3 linked regions of the Homo sapiens genome follow. The protein of the gene in region 3 purifies or fractionates together with the protein of the main gene of each other region. This does not show direct contact. Each region holds a gene or a part of one and is shown on either strand. Other genes may lie near its edges. The genes, in order: SLC39A11, TUBGCP3 and SIGLEC12.

What was found.
Region 1: the proteins of SIGLEC12 (region 3) and SLC39A11 purify together in Homo sapiens (affinity purification with mass spectrometry; 2 studies listed by BioGRID and IntAct, with this or other methods). This does not show direct contact.
Region 2: the proteins of SIGLEC12 (region 3) and TUBGCP3 purify together in Homo sapiens (affinity purification with mass spectrometry; 2 studies listed by BioGRID and IntAct, with this or other methods). This does not show direct contact.

The regions. Positions count from the first base shown.
Region 1 is NC_000017.11:72,645,308-72,648,700, forward strand, and holds the end of SLC39A11 (zinc transporter ZIP11), read right to left. Parts: intron 2,356-3,393; coding exon 2,277-2,355; 3' UTR 642-2,276; downstream 1-641. UniProt on the Homo sapiens protein: Zinc importer that regulates cytosolic zinc concentrations either via zinc influx from the extracellular compartment or efflux from intracellular organelles such as Golgi apparatus. May transport copper ions as well.
Region 2 is NC_000013.11:112,553,531-112,557,183, forward strand, and holds part of TUBGCP3 (gamma-tubulin complex component 3), read right to left. Parts: intron 2,695-3,653; coding exon 2,522-2,694; intron 1,476-2,521; coding exon 1,357-1,475; intron 653-1,356; coding exon 527-652; intron 1-526. UniProt on the Homo sapiens protein: Component of the gamma-tubulin ring complex (gTuRC) which mediates microtubule nucleation.
Region 3 is NC_000019.10:51,491,788-51,495,440, forward strand, and holds part of SIGLEC12 (sialic acid-binding Ig-like lectin 12 isoform a precursor), read right to left. Parts: intron 43-3,653; coding exon 1-42. UniProt on the Homo sapiens protein: Putative adhesion molecule that mediates sialic-acid dependent binding to cells. The sialic acid recognition site may be masked by cis interactions with sialic acids on the same cell surface.

The sequences.
Region 1 (3,393 bases), on a different chromosome or scaffold from region 3:
GCTGTAATGAACTTAATAGACCCTTTTTTTTTTTTCTATTTTGGCTCTGCACCATATGAACTCATTCCCAAATTTGGAAAATCCACTATTTTGCGAGTCTTGGGAAGGGGCAAGATCAGCTAGTTCATGGGCACAGGATCTAAGCTCTGGCAGCTGGATGTTCTGATCTAGAACTTCGAATGTGGAGCCAGGACACAAAGAATCCAGCTCAGTGTAGAGTTTGTTCTTGTGGCGGCAGTGGTGGTGGCATCAAGGTACAGCAGTTTCATTAGTGGTGTCCAGGATCTAGGGACCAGCTCTGGGGACCATGGCATCTAAACCAAGCTGTTCTCCAGGTGTGATTGGGTCATGGCCCCAGACCTCTGGCTTTCTTGGATCCAACCCATTTTCAAGCCCGATTCTCCGAAAGAGCCTGTGAATTCCCTAACAGGCTTCCACTCATTTCCTTTTCTGTTTAAGTAAGCTGCTGTTGGATGCTGTTGTTGCAACCAAGAATCTGACTAGCCCTTCCCATCTGAGCTCTTTCCTTTGCCTCTCCTAGTGTTGGATCAGGGAGGTGTTAGTTCCAACTTTAGTTAGCTCTTTTATGATCATCCTTGCAAAGAAGCAGCTTTGAGAAGTACTGAACGTAACACAGGTCATCCACAACATCCCCTTTTTATTGATATTAATCACAGTTATGAGGTCTTGTCCATCAGAAAGCACAATTTGCATTATGTAGAACTACATACAAAGACATAAAAATAAAACATACATACACCAACCACCACACCAGTTAATCTCAACCAATCAAACCTCTGAATGTGTCTTCAATTTTGATCATCAGTGCTTCGGAAGAACGTACATAGACCCAGCCCAAGGTTGGCCTTTGGGGTCTGATAGCATTCACAGAGCAGGAGATTCACCCTTGGAAGCAATTGAATGTGTAAACTCTGAGAGCAGACACTGACAATGCAATGCCTGCATACCTGACTCCTGGGCTGCCTTCCTTCTCAGCAGAGCCCACTGAAAGTCTCACGTGTGCCTTTAACCAATGAGGATGGCAGGCCTTATCTGTGTTTGAAGTGGACAGGTCATTGCTACCCCTGTTGGAGAAGCTATGTAAGAAGGAGTAGGCTGGCTTCTGGTCTAGTTCGACTCATTCTTTATAGGGACATTTCAGAATGATGAGTTGGCTAAAATTTACTTTAAAGGGGAAATGTAAAATTACCTCTTCTTTTCCTATCCCCTTCTTCCTTTCCCATCCTGAGCCCTCTGGCAAGGCCTGTTGCAGCTCAAGAGTTTTTGTCAGATTATAAGTTACCAAATGGTCAACAGGGAAGGACCCACAGCAGATTCCAAAACTCTTTCATTCACTTGAGTTAACTGAAATGGCTCCTTCTTTGAGTAATTGAAGAGTTTGAGTTCTAGCAGTTTGCTGGTGTCTCCAAGTCTCTTAGAAACATGATGGCTATAAACTTATCAAAATAAATGCCTAAGAAATTTGGAAAGCGCGACAAATGGCCTTGCTCCTGGAATCCATTGACAGCAGAGGCCTCCGAACAAACCCACACTCTGTCTGTCTCTTCTTTCCACAGGGCTCACTGTGAGTTCACAGTTGTCCTCATCCCCTTTCCTTCAATAATGTCAATCTTTGCCTTTAAAAAAAAAAAAAAAAAAAGCCAGACTAGCCAATTTCCTTCCCTTTTTCTGTGTCCCCCTCCCATGTAGTATCTCCTTAGGGGGAGGTAAAGGAAGACATGCTCCTCTCTGGGCTGGCTCGGCCTTGGAAGGTAGCTTGCTATCTTTATGATGCTCCAGTTCCAACATTCTAGATGGGGAGAGGCTCAGCAGTGATGGAGCAGGAGGGGCGGATGAGAGGTGTGCTGGCCACTCTGCCCTGAGTCACTAGGCCACCAAAATGCTTAGGAGACGTCTTTTGGTAGCTCGCTTCTATAGGTGACCTTGAGGAGTTGGGAGGCAGATAGAAGGTCCCGAAGTGGAGATTTCCCTGATCTGAAGTTCCTTGATAATCCCACTGAAGAGAGAGTCCATTCAGTGGCCAAAACAAAGAATCTGTATTTCCATGACACCTTAAAATTCCCCATTAAATCAAAAATCTCCCTCAAAGCAAAGTAAAAATGGTTCTATTATAATCAGAGTCAATCAGGATAATGAGATGAAGAAGAGAGGAAGGAAAAAAGTTTTAATGTGAAGAAAGAAGCTTGTTGTCCCATAGAAGCCAACCACTGCTGTTTCTTCGTATGGCCTTTCCCGGGGTCCGAAGCGTCTCAGCCCTAGCCCAGGCCAACGTCCAGTGACATCATCACTACAAATCCCAGGATGGAGGCCCAGGATGCCAGTTTCCCATTACCACTGGAAGAGAAGGACAGGAAGAAAAGTAAGACCTTAATGATCCCTGAGGCCACGGCTAGGCTGAAGGCATCCTCTGCAATGTCCAATTCCAAGAGAAAGCACACTACCATTAATAATGGTAACATTTACTGGGGCTTACTATGTGCCAGGCAAACTAATGAACCATGGAACCCCAAACAACAACCTCATGAGGTCAGTATCATAATTATCCTCATTTTACTGGTGGGGAAACTGAGGCAAAGAGAAGTTACTTGCCCAAGGTCACCTATGATCGTTCTGTGGTCCATGTGTGAGTAATGAAGAGGGGTGATTATTTCTTAAAGATATTACTTAATCTGGCCTTTTAAACTAGCCTCAGAGTTATTCTTCTATAAAAACCAAAATAGGCTGGGAGCAGTGGCTCAAGCCTGTAATCCCAGCACTTTGAGAGGCCGAGGCAGGCAGATCACCTGAGGTCAGGAGTTTGAGACCAGCCTGGCTAACATGGCGAAACCCCGTCTCTACTATAAATACAAAAATTAGCTGGGCGTAGTGGTGGTTGCCTGTAGTCCCAGCTACTTGGGAGGCTGAGGCATGAGAATCACTTGAACCTGGGGGGCGGAGGTTGCAGTGAGCCGAGATCACACCACTGCACTCCAGCCTGGGTGACAGAGCGAGACTCTGCCATTAAAAAAAAAAAAAAAAAGAAAAACAAAACAAAACAAAACAACAACAAAATGGAACAAAGCAAACCCTTACTCCCACCTTCTGACACCTGGCCTATAGCTAGCCAGTGAAGACATGCATGTATCACCTTCACTGACATTTTAGAGCTCACCTCTCCCTTCATTCCAGCCCGAGAATCGAGAGACAGGATGAGAGAGAATATACAAAAACGATAGTCTACTGCATCAAGGGACGGGGGGCAGGTGTGTATGCCACTGCCTGGTGTCACCTCATTTCTTGACCCACATGCCCTTAGCTTCTTTTCTTTTAGTTTCAGAGAGCACAGTTGAGGAGGCAGTGGGGATGATCTTGGGAAGGGGCAGAGAGGGGGAG
Region 2 (3,653 bases), on a different chromosome or scaffold from region 3:
CAGCAGCAGCTCCCTCCCAACCATGCACTGTGCCATCGGCAGTGCCCACCCAGGGCTGTCCAGACAGCCATAGCCAGGATTCCCATCTCCAGCTTCGGCAGTGTTCCCAAATCCTGCCTCACCGTGCTGCCTGGGGAATCACGCAGCTGGGAGTGTCCCCTGTTGGCAGGCCCCGTCCCAGCAGGGCCCCTCCTCAACCTTCTGGAGGAGGCAGCAGCAGCTGGGCAGGGCCCCCTTCGAGCGTTTGGAATCGGGCAATGCCAGCTCCCCATGGCCAGCTCTGTCTCACCATTTTCTCTGTATTTTACAGTCCTCCAGCAGTTCCTGAGCCAACCTGCTGTATTCAGTGTCCTCATCAGCACCTACTGTGGTTTCTACTGTCTTGAGTGGACCCTGAAAGTTGACTCTCAAAGCTGCTTTACTTGGAAAGAGCCTTAGAAGGAGCTATTTCACAGTAAGATTTCAACTAGAGTAAGCGTTTCCCAAAGTGCGCAGCATCCCAGCATCCTAGGAACCATGAACGCACCTGCCCGACGAGTCCGAATGAGCGGTCCAGGCTCCTCTGGTCCGTGTATCTTCTGATTTTATTATGCAACCATCCCAACTCAGAAAGCCTGACTGCTGTGTCTCTCAAAGACCTACTTAGATTTGCCTAAAAAGTAAATACATCAAATGTTAAACATTAAAAAGCAATACTAGAGCTTTAATTAGTATTTTTCTCAAGCACTTCTACTTTTAATACTATAATCCTTAGGCTTCAAGACATAAAAGTTAAAACTAAGATCCCATCACTAAAGGGAAGGAAAGCACATTAAGTGACAGCATGATGGAAAGCACCTCAAAGGGCATGGTGAGCTCATTTCACACCACCCTGCAGTTGGCCTGCGGTGTGGCAGAGAAGGTCTGTGATCTCAGCCACGCTGTGAAAGGGCTAAGAGCCACAGTGTGACCCACACCACAAGAAATGGGCATGGTAAAGGCAGATTATGGAAAAAGGAAACAAAAGTGGGTGAAGACCCCTGACCTGGAATCCTGCATCAATGCCGAAGGTGCCAAGGGACCTCTGTCCCCTGGGTGCCTCAGCCATCACACAGCAGGATGCAGAAATCAGCTATGGGGCAGCCCCATCAGTAGACGTGAGGAAAGGAGGCACACATTAATCACAAAGGGTCCCCATAACAAAACTGAACGAGCCACAATGGACAGAAATAGAAACCAGAATTCCACAGTGCAATTTCACCTCACAACCGATTCGCAAAACCCCAGTACCACCTTATCAATCAACAGCCACTATCTGGACTTCATGACATGTTTTTTCTTTCTGAATATTTTAACTTAGATTTTATGTTACTGTACCTTTCCTTCTACTTTGTAACAATTTTCAGTGTTGTTCATTTTGATGTTTTTGCCATCTATGCCCTGAAAGACGTACAAAATGTCCCTTACCAGAGCTGCTTCTGTAATTTCCATAGTACCTGCAAAATCATTTTTTAAAGACAGTAATTACTAGACAATATTTTAACAGACAATAGATATTATGGTGCAATTAGCTTCAGATTAGATATTTGCCACCCCGATGAAATTTACTAACTCAATAAATAAGCTCAAGATGAAAAAGAGTATGAGATTAGAAAGAAACAAGGCGAGTCTCAGTCTAGAGGTTGGCCTGCTGTGCCATGAACGCACAGCTGTCAAACACGACATGAATCTGCAGCTGTGGACAGAGGCTGGACGCGGGAGCCACACACAGGGACAGGCGGAGTGGGGCAGATGGTGGAGACTACTGCGGGGGCTAATACTGTGCCAGGATGTCCTCCAGCTCTCAGATGCTCCTCACCTTTGCATTCTACGCAAGGACAGGTACAGGTAACATCCAGAGCCATTTCGTAATCAGCAGATTACGAGCCAACAGGGAAACCCAATCCTCTGTTTTCAGGACACTCATGTTTCAAATGCTGCTAACTGTAGTGTTCTCAATAAAGAAACTCAAGCTTCCTTTTGGAATCTAGCAGGGCTTTAAAACCCTCCATGAGGTATTCATCTCACCATTCAGTAATTCCTCAATGACTCTCTTCGACGTGCCAGGCACTGTGCTGAGCACTGGCACCATAAATGAAAAGACATAGCCCCTCTGTGGCCTTAAGACTTTGGTAGAAGAAGGTGACTTTTACTGGGGGCCTAACCCAGCCTTAAAGACTTTCCCAGGGAAACGGCAGGATGAAAACAGACAGGGAGAATGTGATGAGGAACAGCAAAGACGAGAGATGTGGAGGGAGGAGGCCACATGGAAAAGCAGCCAAAAAGCAGACTGTGCTGGGAGGAAAAAGCCCAGGTGGCCTGGGGTGAAAAGCCAAACTCCCCAAGGCGCCGCAGACCACCAGGGACTCTGGACTTCATCATAAGAACAAGAAGAAACCACTAAAAGGTTTGAGGTGGGGCTCCTGGGCTGTACTTTAAAATAAGGAGAGGCTGAATTCCAAGTGTTCACAGAAAAGCTGTATTAACATAGATCCTTACTCACCACCCGTATCCCCTTCTCTCCTGGACCTTGTCATGTTGCGAGACACAGCACTGGGGACACCTTTTGAGGTAGTGGCTTGTGAAGAAGGCTGATTTGCAGTTAAAGTCCATGCGAGTCGTGACCCCAACTGCTGTCGAAGGCAATCTCCTACTCCTGGAGCTTGATTAGACTGTCTAAAAAAAGAAACATGTATTATCTTCTAATAGGCTATTCGCTGAAGAGACAAAAGTGTCCCTAGAAATTTCTCTTGTATTACTATCGTGAATTACATAAATTTATAAATCTGGTATAGCTGATACCATGACTTTACCCTAACCGAATATATCAATAACAGACAGTCCCAAGTCCCTTGAACTTGGTCAAGCCTCCTTGCGACCCTTGGCCTAGCATTCGGACCCAACACAGCAGTGGAAAAATCATCTTACTGCTACCTTACAATATATATTTCTTACCATTAATATCAAAATCTATTTGGCTTTTCTTTATAAACATATAACATACCTTACCCACCCCATAACCACTTTGAAATTCTCTACTTATTTTAACTTCAAAATCCACAACTCTCGTTCACTCCCCATGTACTGAGCAGAGGAATCGAGTCACTGTGACACTGCCCCAGGCGCCTGGCCTCACCTGTCTTCAGCCTTCAGAGTGCTCACTATGAAAAGAAACTGCAATTTTCAATTAACTGCTAAAGTATACAAACGTATAAAATCTAAGGCAAATGCATATTCAAGGTCAAGATGGCTTGTCAGCAATTTTGAGACTATGTCAAAGTTGTTTTTTGAAAAATGTAAGAACCTCATAGCTGATTTCTAATAGCGTCAGTTTTGACAGGTGCAACAAAAATATCACTTCCTGGGACTACAAAACACAAAAATGAGAACCTCAGCTGCTCTACAGTTTCCAGGTGCCAGAGCTTGGATTTAGTACTGGTGCAATACTGGGGGGGTTTATCCATAATCCACTCGTGAAGTAAGGAGAACAGGAAAGAACTGAAACAGTTCTTATTTTATTCCATTTTCATCAGGAGAGAAGTCAACAACATTCACTAAAACTATGTCTCTGGGCATAGTTCTAAATTTAAGAGGATGATTCTAAAAGACTTTCAGTTCAAAGTTCTCTATACAGA
Region 3 (3,653 bases):
GTGTGGGGGGCTGTCATCTGCCGGGGATTCAATCAGGGGTCCCTGAATGGAGGAAGAGAAGGGAGTCAGTGCAGAGCAGTGGGGCCAGCATGCACCAGAGAGCATCCAGGAAGGAGGCCCAGGAGTTCCTTCCTCCATTCATCCCATGTGCACTTTGCTGAAATCTCTTTAATACGTTCCTCTAATGTCTAATACTCAATTATCACCTTATGTGGTGTTTACTAATCTCATTAACTTCCAACAACAATTCCATAGTAAGATATTATTATTGTCTCCATTTTATAAATTTGAAAACTGAGGTAGAAATGGTTAAGTACCCTGCGCAAACTCCCTCTTATACCGGGACCCAATCCAGTCAGTTCCTTCTGACCCCAAAGCCTGGAGTCCTGCTGAGGCCTCCTGTGTGTGAGTTCCTGGGCTGGGTGCTGGATGGACTGTGGTGGACACGGTAGGCATGGGCTCTGACCCCCTGCATCTCACTCTTTAACTGAAGGAGGTGGCAATAAATGACTGCCAAACAAATGAATATCTATGTGTGAATTATGATAAGATGGGTAGGAAGAGGGCAAGTGAGAGAGAATTACAGGGCCTTGATTCAGACGTGGCACCTGCCCTTGAGAAGCTCACAGTTTGGTGGTGTGGGGAAGACAAGTCAATAAAATAAATTATATCCCTCTTATAGGAAGAATAATGACCCCTCCAAAATGTCCATGCCCTAATCCCCTGGAACCTGTTGATCTGTTACCTTACATGGCTAAAGGGGCTTTACAGATGGAATTAGGTTAAGGATATCGAGATGGGGAAATTATCCTGGATTACTTGGGTGGGCCCAGTGGAATCACAGGGGTCCTTACAAGTAGTGAAAGGAGGAGGGCATAGATAGATTGGAAGATGCCAGGCTGCTTGACTTGCAGACAGAGGGAGGGTCCTGAGCCAAGGAATGCAGGTGCCTCTAGAAGCTGGAAAAGGTGAGAAAGCGCATCCTCCCCTGGATCTTCCAGAAGGAACTGGCCCTGCCTGCCAATGCCTTGATTTTAGCCCAGTGACACCCATTTTGGGCTTGTGACCTTCAGAACTTTAAGTTAATCCATGTTTGTTGTTTGAAGCCAGGAAATGTGTGGCAATTTGTCACAGCAGCCACAGGAAACTAATATAGACTCACACGGTGGAGAGTGACAGAGGCTGCCTGGGAGGCTTCTCCTTCATCTCTGAACTTCCCTGCTACTCCCCTGCACAGCAGATGCTCCATGGAACTGTTTGTGATTTCACTCCCCCATTCTGTCTTGATTACTCAAATTAACATTCACACACACACCACATCTCAGCACTGCTGTTATCAAGGTCACCATGACCACTGCTTGGCTGAGTCCAAATGTCCGTCTTGCAGTCTTCTCCTTCTTGGACTTCACAGCAGCAGAGGACCCAGCTGCTCACCTTCCCTACACAGAAGCCCTTCTTGACTTAACTACAGGACATCGTGCTTTCTGGCTCCATCTTACCTTCTTGGCAGCCCTTTTGCTAGATGCTCCACATCTCCCTGACCCTAAATATCAGAGCAGCCCTGAGCTCTTCTTTACTTTTGCTTTGCAATCTCATCCACTGTGTTGTCTTCATGCCATCAATAAACTGACGACTTCCAAATTTACACCCAGCCCTCTCCCCTCTGCTGACTATAGTCCTTGATCCAATAGTATACTTCAAACCCACACATCTTGTCGAAAGGCACACAAAATGCAACCTATTCTATCTGAACTCCTCCTTTTTTCCCCCAGATCTCTTTTTTTGCACAATCTTTTCTGCCTCAATGACTGACCCCTCCATTCTACCCATGGATTGGGGCAAAAATCTGGAAGTCTTCTTGCTCCCTCTCTGTCATTCACATTGTACACCCAATCTATTGGCAATTCTCATAAGTCTAACTTCAGAATTTACCCATAAGACAGCCATGTCCACCACCACTGCCATCTTGGTTCCAGCCAGCACCACTTCCTGCCTGAGATGTTCACCAGCCTCCTCTCTATCTTCTCTGCTCTGTCTTTCCTCTACCACACACAGTCTCTTCTGCACACAACAGCCAGAGGGATCCCATGAAAATAAAAGTTAATCATGGTCTCTTGCACAAAACTCTCCAAATGCTCACAGTGCCCTGTGCAGCCAGACACGATTCACACACAGGCTCAACTTCTCCAAAGTCATTTCCTGTTCTTGGCCTTGCTTCCCTCTGTCTAATCACACAGACGTCCTTGTGGATCCTCTCACTGGTCCCTCCTGTGCCTGAGCCTCACCCTGTTCTTCCCTCTGTCTGGAGTGCTCTTCAATCTCACAGTCAGTGTCAGATCTGAGCCTCCTTCATTCCTGTGCTCAAACATCACTAACAGAAACACAAGTCATCCTACAGAATGGTAGAAAATATTTTCAAGCCATACATCTGAAAAAAGTTTTAATATCCAGAATATATTAAAAAAATTCTTAGAACTCAACAGCAGAGAAACAACACAGTTTCAAAAATAGGCTTAAACTCTGATAGACTTTCTCTAAAGGTGATATACAAATCAAAAGAAGCATATGAAAACATCACTAATTATTAGAAAATGCAAATCAAAGCCTTAATGAGATATCACCTCACACGCGTTAGGATGGCCACTGTCAAAAACAAACGAAAACCAAAAAGTAACAAGCGTTGGTGAGGATGTGGAGAAATGGGAACCCTTGTGTGACATTTGTGGGAATGTAAAATAGTGTAGCCACTGTGGAAAACAGTATGGCAGTTCCTTAAGATATTAAAAAACAGAATAATCTTAGAGTCCAGAAACCCTACTTGTGGATATACACCCAAAAGAATTAAAAGCAGGATATTGAAAAGATATTTGCATGCCCATGCTCACGGCAGCATTATTCACAATAACCAAGAGGTGGAAGCAACCCAAGTGTACATCAACAGATAAATGGATAAAGAAAATGCGGTAAACATACACACAATGCAATATTAATTACCCTTTAAAAAGAAGGAAATCTTGTCACACCTTACAATGTGGGTGAACCTTGAGGATATTTGTTAAGTAAATCGTCCAGTCACAAGATGAGCAATACTGTATGATTTCACTTATATGAGGTATCTAGAATAGTCAAATTCATAGGAAAATAAAGTAAAATTGGTGATTTCCAGTGGCTGCAGGAGGATGAAGAGGATGGGAGGGAAAGGGCGGAGTTATTGTTCAACGAATGTGGAGTTTCAGTTTTGCAAGATAAAAGGGTTCTAGAGATCTAGCACAACCATAAACTTAATAAAGTTGAGGTGGTAAATTTTATGTTATGTGTTATTTTCCACCGTAGATGGCTGGATGGATGGATGGGTGGATGGATGGATGGACGGGTGGGTGGGTGGATGGATGGATGGATGGATGGATGGATGGACGGACGGGTGGGTGGGTGGATGGATGGATGGATGGATGGATGGATGGACGGGTGGGTGGGTGGATGGATGGATGGATGGATGGATGGATGGATGGACGGACGGACGGGTGGGTGGATGGATGGATGGATGGATGGATGGATGGATGGATGGACAGACGGGTGGGTGGATGGATGGATGGATGGATGGATGGATGGATGGGTGGGTGGGTGGGTGGATGGATGGATGGATGGATGGATGG